Linked DNA regions of Homo sapiens: region 2 is linked to region 1. The links come from fine-mapping of genetic effects on gene expression. A gene starts in region 1. The other region holds a variant in brackets. All regions are shown on one strand. Distances are between the middles of the regions. Region 1 holds the start of YWHAH (tyrosine 3-monooxygenase/tryptophan 5-monooxygenase activation protein eta). Region 2 has its middle 30 kb from the start of YWHAH.

Evidence for each region. PIP is the estimated chance that this variant, and not a neighbour inherited with it, causes the effect. A credible set is the group of variants that fine-mapping cannot tell apart.
Region 2: its variant is the best candidate, but not a certain one, in a credible set for the expression of YWHAH in monocytes (BLUEPRINT, PIP 0.69).

The regions. Positions count from the first base shown.
Region 1 is chr22:31,942,760-31,947,138 of GRCh38, forward strand. It overlaps YWHAH (tyrosine 3-monooxygenase/tryptophan 5-monooxygenase activation protein eta), which reads left to right and starts at 1,776. Exons shown (of 2, transcript NM_003405.4): 1 at 1,776-2,061. The coding sequence starts at 1,975. YWHAH-AS1 (YWHAH antisense RNA 1) reads right to left here and starts at 2,607. Exons shown (of 3, transcript NR_171018.1): 1 at 2,474-2,607. It overlaps LOC124900477 (a long non-coding RNA gene), which reads left to right and starts at 2,075. Exons shown (of 3, transcript XR_007068065.1): 1 at 2,075-2,476; 2 at 2,741-2,919. RefSeq lists enhancers at 238-1,095, 1,096-1,953, 2,697-2,746 and silencers at 1,217-1,366, 1,647-1,736, 1,747-1,966, 2,037-2,376.
Region 2 is chr22:31,912,373-31,916,751 of GRCh38, forward strand. No RefSeq gene overlaps it. Among named protein-coding and RNA genes, the nearest start is that of YWHAH, 30 kb to the right of the region's middle. RefSeq lists an enhancer at 1-296. The variant C/CAA (reference allele first, on the strand shown) is at 2,735.

The DNA.
Region 1 (4,379 bases):
GACTCTTCAAAGCATGGTGAAGCCTGGGGTAGTGGCCTCCTCCTAGACCCACATTCAAATCCTGTTTCATGGGCCCCCAGAAGTGTGATCGTTTCAGCATCATAGCAGGAAGAGGAAGGCCTGGGAGGCAGGAAACCTGGTATGGAGACCCCAGCTCTGCTCACTCGCTGTGCAAACTAGGGCCAGCCCCTCCTTTCCCTCAGACCTCAGTTTCCCGTTATTCAGGATAAGGGGTTAGACAGGGGTGATTCTAAGGGTCCTGCCAGCTCTGACATTTCAGCATGTGGATATCTATTCTAAAGTCCTTGAAACAGTTAAGTCCAATTCTCCAGATGGAAAACAGGTCCAGAAAAGGCCTGGTCTCCAGTTCCCTCCCTTCTCCCTTCGAACATGTCTTACTCTCTAGAGCAAGATTCCAGGCCTGAAATATGGCTTCCCAATTACCTAAGGATGAAGCCTCAAATCTTTGGCCTGGCATTTAAAAGACTCCGTAATCTTGTTTTACCCAACCTCACTTCCCATTCTTAGGCCTCTCTTCTCACCATCTCCCAGGTCACTGCCAAGCCTTTGCCAATGCTGTACCCCAGGCCTTAATCTTTTTCCTGACTCTCCTTCAAGATCCAGCTTATCCCTGTGGGCTGAGCATGCAGTAGATGCTCAATAAAATTCTCAGCGAGCCCAAGGCCCCCTCTCCTGCACTGCCCTTGGCGTGTTGAAATCAAGTGGGGGCCTTGTTTTAATCATCATTTTCCTAGCTTGTCGGGCAGCCCAGTCCAGGGCCTGGCACAAGGGACCCTCAGCATCCAATACCAGCCAGGATTGGGAGGGGCTCAGTGACCAGCCAGTTGGGCCACCCCAGCTCTTTGCCACAAGAGAAAGTTCAGCCTGGGTTTGGACTCAGATCCTGGCCCCACCACTTACAGGCTGCGTAACCCTGAGCAAGTCACTAACCTCGCTTTTCCTCAGGTTCCACGTTTTAAATATGGGGAGACCAGCTGTGCCCACTGTGGGCTGGGTAGTGAGGATTAAAGAGGAGGATGCTTGTACGGGACTAGCACTGGGCTGGCTCCTAATGTGTCCTGAATATTACTTGTCCCGCCCTGGCCACCCAGTCCCCTCCTCTGGTGGAAGGCACAGCCTGCCCAAGGCTACGTCTCAGGTTGGGTTCGATTGTGTGTGTCTGTGTAGCGGGGCTGTCCCCGAGGGTCGGACTCGATCCTGCCCGGACCAGTACAAGGTGTGGCCCAGCAGAACGCATGGACAGGCAGGGCTCGGGGCGGGCGGGACGGCTGGGGCGGGGCTGGGCGGACCCGCCCCTCGGGGCACGCGGTCTCCCGGCTTCTCCGCCAGTATGTTTGCTTGCTTTTGGGGCCCTTCTCAAGCCAGATCTCTAACGTGGATGGAGTGGCGCGTTTCAGGGTGGGGCTATGACAATGCACTGCCTGTGCAGCCGCCATCACCGCGCCCCCTCCACCGGCTCCGCAGTCTCCTGCCCGGCTTTCCCTTCTCCACCTCCATCTCTGCGGCGGTAAAATGCAGCACTCGCAGAGCGCCTGCGCGGCTTTCAGGCCGGGCGGCGGCGGCGGCGGTGGCTATTTATAGTAGGTGACGTCACCTTGAAATAGACCGTTAGGGCCGGCCCGCCCTTCCCCCCTCCCACTCCCGCCGCTCCCCGCCGCCCGGCCTGGCCACTCTCACTGCGCAGGCGTCGTCCCGTCCTCCCATCCCCCAGCGCGGCCGCGTCTCCTCCCTCGGCGTTGTCCGCGGCGCGAGCCACAGCGCGCGGGGCGAGCCAGCGAGAGGGCGCGAGCGGCGGCGCTGCCTGCAGCCTGCAGCCTGCAGCCTCCGGCCGGCCGGCGAGCCAGTGCGCGTGCGCGGCGGCGGCCTCCGCAGCGACCGGGGAGCGGACTGACCGGCGGGAGGGCTAGCGAGCCAGCGGTGTGAGGCGCGAGGCGAGGCCGAGCCGCGAGCGACATGGGGGACCGGGAGCAGCTGCTGCAGCGGGCGCGGCTGGCCGAGCAGGCGGAGCGCTACGACGACATGGCCTCCGCTATGAAGGCGGTGAGCGCGCCGGGAGCCCGGGCGGCTGGCCGGGGGGGGCCTGGCGTTGGGGAGGGACGGGGATGGCCGCGGGCGCGTTCCCCTCCCGGCCATGGGCGACCCGGCGACCCGGCTGGGCGTGGCCGCCCGCCCGCCCTTAGCCCGCGCTTCCCGCTCCCGCTGGGCGCCCCGCCACTTCCTGAGGCTGGGCCCAGGGTGGGGGATCCGGGAGGGTGCAGTTCGGGATCGCGAAGGCAGCCCCGGAAGGGGGGCGGGCCGGTCGGGGTCGCCACATCTTAGTTCGGAACCCGGCCGGGGGCAGAGGGTGCCCTAGGGGACGCGAAGGAGCCGCATTTCTCCTAGAGCGTTTCACCGGACCCGGGGGCTCCCCCTCTCGTCTTCCTCCGTTCCCCAACTTGGAATAAAGAATCACCTAGTAAGTGGCGCCCTGTCTCAGCTGGTTTTCTCTGCCACGACCTGAAGTCTGCAATTCCGATCTGTTTTGCTCTGCTCGTTCGAATTGTTCTGGTTCCATCTTCCCACGCCTGGGGGTCTGGCTTTGTGTGCGAAGACCCCTTTCCTGCAGTCTAGGCGTGGACGGGGGCGGGAGAGTGGGCGGAGGGTGTGGGGCCCCACTCCACAGCCCCAGGTTTGCTGCTGCGCTGTCTGCTTGGAGATTAAAATGAAACGTGACTTCTAGGTGAGACGAATCTGTGTGTCTTTGCATTCCTGAGACCCTCATAAATCGATTCTGCAGCTTCTCCGGTGGATGAGTCGTGCCCAGCCACACCCTAGCAAAATACCGTGGGTCACACACCACCTGCATTTCTGAGTTCCGGTTACCATCTCACTCTCTCTCCACGTTATTTTACGTTTTCTGTAAATGAATATTTCCTCTCCCTGCGTCAAGGTCACACAGTGGTAGAACAACTGCGACCACCAACCTATGTTCAGTGTACAACCTCCTGAGACCTGGGAGGATCCCCTTGAACTCCGCCTTAGACCTATACATTCAGAAATTCGGGCGGTGAGACTCAGACATCTGCATTGTAACCAGCTCTCACAGGCGATTTTTAGCTGGCTTAAGTCTGAGAATTACTGCCCATGATTATAGTAAATGTATCCTTTGCTGGCCTTTTGGAGGGAGTTCCGAAAAAAAACTGCCAATACAAAGGCTCCCTAAAATCTTAAGTCATTTGGAAAGCTCATTTGAAGGCTTTTGATGTTAATATCAGATGAAATATGTAGTTGGGGCCAATATTTAGGATTGTTCAGGTAAGAAAGGTGCTTGAAGAGTTGCCTTTCCTCTGGTGTCCTTGTTACACACATAACTGGGTGTGTTTGGAAACCAGCAACACCGTTGCCCGTATGTTGATTTGTTGGTGATCTTGACTTGAGCACTATTAGCATGCTGTTGTGGTGAGGCAGGTTTTCTTCCAGACCGGGGGACGGTCTAGGTCTGGAGGCTGAACTTTATGTAATTCAGGGGGTCCTTTAAAAGAAAATCTAAAATATAGTTTTGCATATTTTACAAAAATGGGACTGACGAATGCATTTCCTTGGAAGGGACCCTGAACCTTAATTTTCTGTGGGATAAAGCTGCCTCTGTCCACAGCAGGTCACACTTAAGCCCCTCCTCCCCAGTAACTGAGTGGTGCTGGGATTATGCAGGCTGAGGCCTCTCCACACATTTTCATGAAGTGGTTGCTCACCCTCTAAGTGAGACGTAAAGACTGCAGTGTTCGGAGCCCTTTGGGAAATAAATGTGGTGAAAAGAAAGGAGGGACGAGGTTTAAAGGAAGGGGAAATGGAGGTTAAGGAAAAATGGCTAGAAGGTGTGTTCTGGAACAATCAGAAACCTGAGGCAACTTGAAATGGGGGAAAAAGGCAAGAATGGAGAGATGTTACCAGAACGAAATCTAGTTTGAGCAGAGAAAAAGACTGGCTTTCTAGTAGGCTTGTAAAATGCTTTCCTGCAGCAAGCTACTTGTGTCCATAGATCTTCTCTGGAGGGTTAAGGTAGCCTTTTGTAAACCAAAGGAATCTATAATATCTATATTTGAAATAATTAATGAGTTGGAAAAGCCACCCAGCGTAGAAGAGTCAATCCAAGCTTTAATTCTGCCATCTCAGAATGGTGATAAACCATTTCTCCCCCATCATCTAAATGGAATATATTGTGCTTATAGGTATTTTCTTTAAAAGAAAAAAAAGAATATATTGGAAGGGACTGGCAGGGGTCACTTTCCCTGCTAACTTGGTGTTTGTAGATTAAATTCTTAATGTTACTGGGATGACTCAGTCTCTATGTTATTAATCTCATCAGCCTTAACTAAGGC
Region 2 (4,379 bases), 30 kb before region 1:
GCTCCTGGCCTTCAGACTGTGCCACACACTTGCCCTAAACCTGGCCTGAAATGCCTGGGATGTAGCATTTGCATGTAGCAAAAGCTGGTGCCGAGTACTGAGTCCTACCAGCCTTCAGATTTGACCTCCATCTGCTTCTCTGGCTGCAGCAAGATTCCTGTTTCCTCAGTGAATCAGCACATAGTCCTTCCAACAAGAAAATCTCTTTTCCCATGGGGATGAGGGGAGATGGGGAATTGCTATGCAATCTCTGGAAAAGTCTTTTCTCCCTGAGCCCCAGAATTTTCATCTGAACTCATCTGGGAGAAACATTGGGGACCATAAGATTATATATAGACTTTTTCCTTTCTCAACCAACAGGATGGATGAGTGCTGAGGGGGGAATTCCAGTCTGTTTCAGTCCCACAGTTGCCACTGGAACGCAATTTCTTGCCTCTTCTCTGTGCTCTTTTTTTTTTTTCTCTCAGAGATACAGGGTCTCCCTCTGTTGTTCAGGCTGGAGTGCAGTGGCACTATCACAGCTCACTGCCACCCTGAACTCAGTCTCAAGCAATCCTCTCAGCTCAGCCCCCCTGAGTAGCTGGGACTACAGGCGTGCACCACCACGCCCAGCTAATTAAAAAAAAAAAAAAAAAAAAAAAAAAAAGGCCTGGCGCAGTGGCTCACGCCTGTAATCCCAGCACTTTGGGAGGCCGAGGTGAGTGGATCATGAGGTCAAGAGATCGAGACCATCCTGGCCAACATGGTGAAACCCCGTCTCTACTAAAAATACAAAAATTAGCCTGGCATGGTGGCAGGCACCTGTAATCCCAGCTATTTGGGAGGCTGCGACAGGAGAATCACTTGAACCAGGGAGGCGGAGGTTGCAGTGAGCCGAGATCATGCCATTGCACTCCAGCCTGGGCGAAAAGAGCGAAACTCCGTCTAAAAAAAAAATATTATAGAGACGGGATTCTTGCTATGTTGCCCAAGTAGTCTCAAAATTCTGGCCTCAAGAGATCCTCCTGCCGATCGAGACCATCCTGGCTAACACGATGAAAAGCCGTCTCTACTAAAAATACAAAAAAAATTAGCCAGGCATGCTCGTGGGCACCTGTAGTCCCAGCTACTCTGGAGGCAGAGGCAGGAGAATGGCGTGAACCCAGGAGGCAGAGCTTGCAGTGAGTCAAGATCACACCACTGCACTCCAGCCTGGGCAACAGAGCAAGACTCCGTCTCAAAAAAAAAAAAAAAGAGATCCTCCTGCCTCAGCGTCCCAAAGCACTGGGATTACAGGCCTGAGCCACCATGCCTGGCTGTCTCTCTGCTCTATGCTTTTTTTTTTTTTTTTTTTTTTTGAGACAGGGTCTCACTCTGTCACCCAGGCTGGAGCACAGTGGCACAACCTTGGCTGACTGCAACCTGCACCTCCCGGGTTCAAGCGATTCTTGTGCCTCAGCCTCCTGAGTACCTGGAGCCACCATGCCTGGCTAATTTTTGGTTTTTTTTTTTTTGTGGAGACAGAATTTTGCCATGTTAGCCAGGCTGTTCTTGAACTCCTGGCCTCAAGTGATCCTCCCACCTCAGCCTCTCAAACTGCTGGGATTACAGGTGTGAGCCACTGTGCCCAGCCTCTAGTGAGTACTTCTAAAAAACCTACAATGCTCAGGATAGACCTTACAGCAAAGAATTATCCAGCCTCCAATGTCAATCGTGTCAGCTTCAGACACCATGAACTAGACTGTGGTCAGGTAAGAGGCTTAGACGGGGGGACTCCCTCCCTCCTGTGACTTTGGAAGAAGAGGCACCTGTCACTTGCCCCTTCCTGTGATCTGAATCCAATGGCAGCCCCATCGTCAATCTATAGGAATTACTCTTGCTGGGTTCCAAGGCCAGAGTGGCTAAGAAGCCTGCTTAGAGGCTTCCAGCAAGTTACGGGCAGCACCAGATTAGAATGCTGGCCATATTGAGTGCTCACTTGCTGGGACATGGCTTCTGTGTTTCCTTCCACTTTCCTTGTTCACGTACCTTGCCTCTCCCATCGAATGTAAGCTCTTTGGAGGCAGAGAACACATCTTGCTCATCCTTGTATCCTCCACAGCAAGCACCCATCACACATTTGGTGCTTATTTAGAATTTATTGAATTCATTCATTCAGCCAACATTTATGCAAGGTTGAACCAACGTGGGCCTTGCCCTCCTCGTGGAGGGAAGCAGACATGCAAAGCAGCCACCATAGCCCTCTAGAAGAGGTCTCAGATTGGCTATCTGTAATGCAGTACAGAAACTGGCCGGGCGCTGGCCGAGCGCAGTGGCTCACACCTGTAATCTCAGCACTTTGGGAGCCCGAGGCGGGCGGATCACGAGGTCAGGAGATAAGATCTTCCTGGCTAACACTGTAAAACCCCGTCTCTACTAAAACTACAAATAAATTAGGCATGGTGGTGGGTGCCTGTAGTCCCAGCTTCTCAGGAGGCTGAGGCAGGAGAATGGCATGAACCCGGGAGGCGGAGCTTGCAGTGGGCCGAGATTGTGCCACTGCACTCCAGCCTGGGTGACGGAGCAATACTCCATCTCAAAAAAAAAAAAAAAAAAAAAGAAAAAGAAAAAGAAAGAAAGAAATTGGCCAGGTGCAGTGGCTCACGCCTGTAATCCCAGCACTTTTGGAGGCTGAGGCAGGTGGATCACTTGAGGTCAGGAGTTCGAGACCACCCTGGCCAACATGGTGAAACCCCATCTCTATCTACTAAAAATA[C/CAA]AAAAAAAAAAAAAAAATTAGCCAAGCATAGTGGTGGGTGCCTGTAATCCCAGCTACTCGGGAGGCTGAGGCAGGAGAATCACTTGAACTCGGGAGGGGGAGTTTGCAGTGAGCCAAGATCGTACCTCCGCACTCCAGCCTGGGTGACAGAGCGAGACTTGGTCTCAAGAAAAAAAGAAATAGAGGAGGGGGCTTCAGTCTGTGTAGGGGAGCTGGGGAAGACTGGAGAAAGGGGCATTTGGGCTGGGACTTGACAGCTACATAAGAGTTCTAGCAGGTGAGGAGGATGGGGTGGGGAAGGGGATGCTGGAGGGCTGGGGGGTTTTGGCAACAGAACAGTCAGGAGAAGACGACTAAAAACTGAAAGGAAGAACTGCAGAGAGAGTTCCCCGACCTGCCTCACCCAGCCTGCCCTTTCAACAACTAGAGGTGAGTGCTGGCAAGTCCCTGGGTGCACACTGGAGCCAAAAAATGGCCCATTGTCTGGAAGCCCTGAGCCAGCCTGTCCCCTGGTGTCATGCCACACAAGGCCTTGCTCACCTGTCAGCCTTTGCTCTTCCTGGCCCCAGATGTAGGTAGAACAATGGCCTCTGAACACACCCAAGCTCCACGGTGGTAGCCGGTGTCTGATAAGACAAGTAGGGAAATGATCTCTTTCATGTTCCCTTTCTCCTCAGAATCAGAACGCTGCGCCCAGGTTCAACCTGCTGTTTCTTCACCAGGTGACCCTGCATAGGCTTTTGAAACCACCCTGACCCTCATCCGTCTAGCGACAAGATGGGAATCATCAAGACTTCGTTACGTAACTCAAGAAGTCGGTGTGAGAACCTGGGAGATAAGGGTTGTTGAGCTGGGCGCAATGGCTCATGCCTGTAATTCCAGCACTTTAGGAGGCCAAAGCAGGCAGATCACTTGAGGCCAGGAATTCGAGACTAGCCTGGCCATCATGGCAAAACCCCGTCTCTACTCAAAATACAAAAATTAGCCAGGTGTGGTGGTGCACGCCTGTAATCCCGGCTCCTCAGGAGGCTGAGGCTGAGAATCACTTGAACCCGGGAGGCGGAGGTTGCAGTGAGCCAAGATCGCACCACTGCACTCCAGCCTGGGTGACAGAGGGAGACTCTGTCTCAAAAAAAAAAAAAAGGGGGGGGTGGTGGGGCAGCATTTTGAGAACTGAGTCTGAGGAAAAGCCACTGTTACTCTTGTCTGACAATAGTGCCAACTACCTGTGATCCTGAATAAGTCCATTCACCTCACTCGACCTCAAGTTTGAGGGTACAGTGATGACGGCGTTTCTCCAGCTTTCTTTGAGGGATCATGGTGAGGACCCGAGGCAGTCAGCTTTGCAAAGGTGTCTGAGCGGTGCAGGGTGCTCCCCCATTTTAAGGCAGTGCTGTAAATGCTCCCGTAACGGAGGCCAAACATTCTGGTTTTCTATTTTATTTTATTTTCAGACAGGGTCTTGCTCTATCACCCAGGCTGGAGTGCAGTGGCGTGATCACAGCGCACTACAACCTCTGCCTCCCAGGCTCAGTTGATCCTCTCACCACAGCTTCCCGAGTAGCTGGGACTACAGGCACATGCCACCACACCCCACTAATTTTTTGTAGAGACAGGGTCTCACTATGTTGTCCAGGCTGTCTCA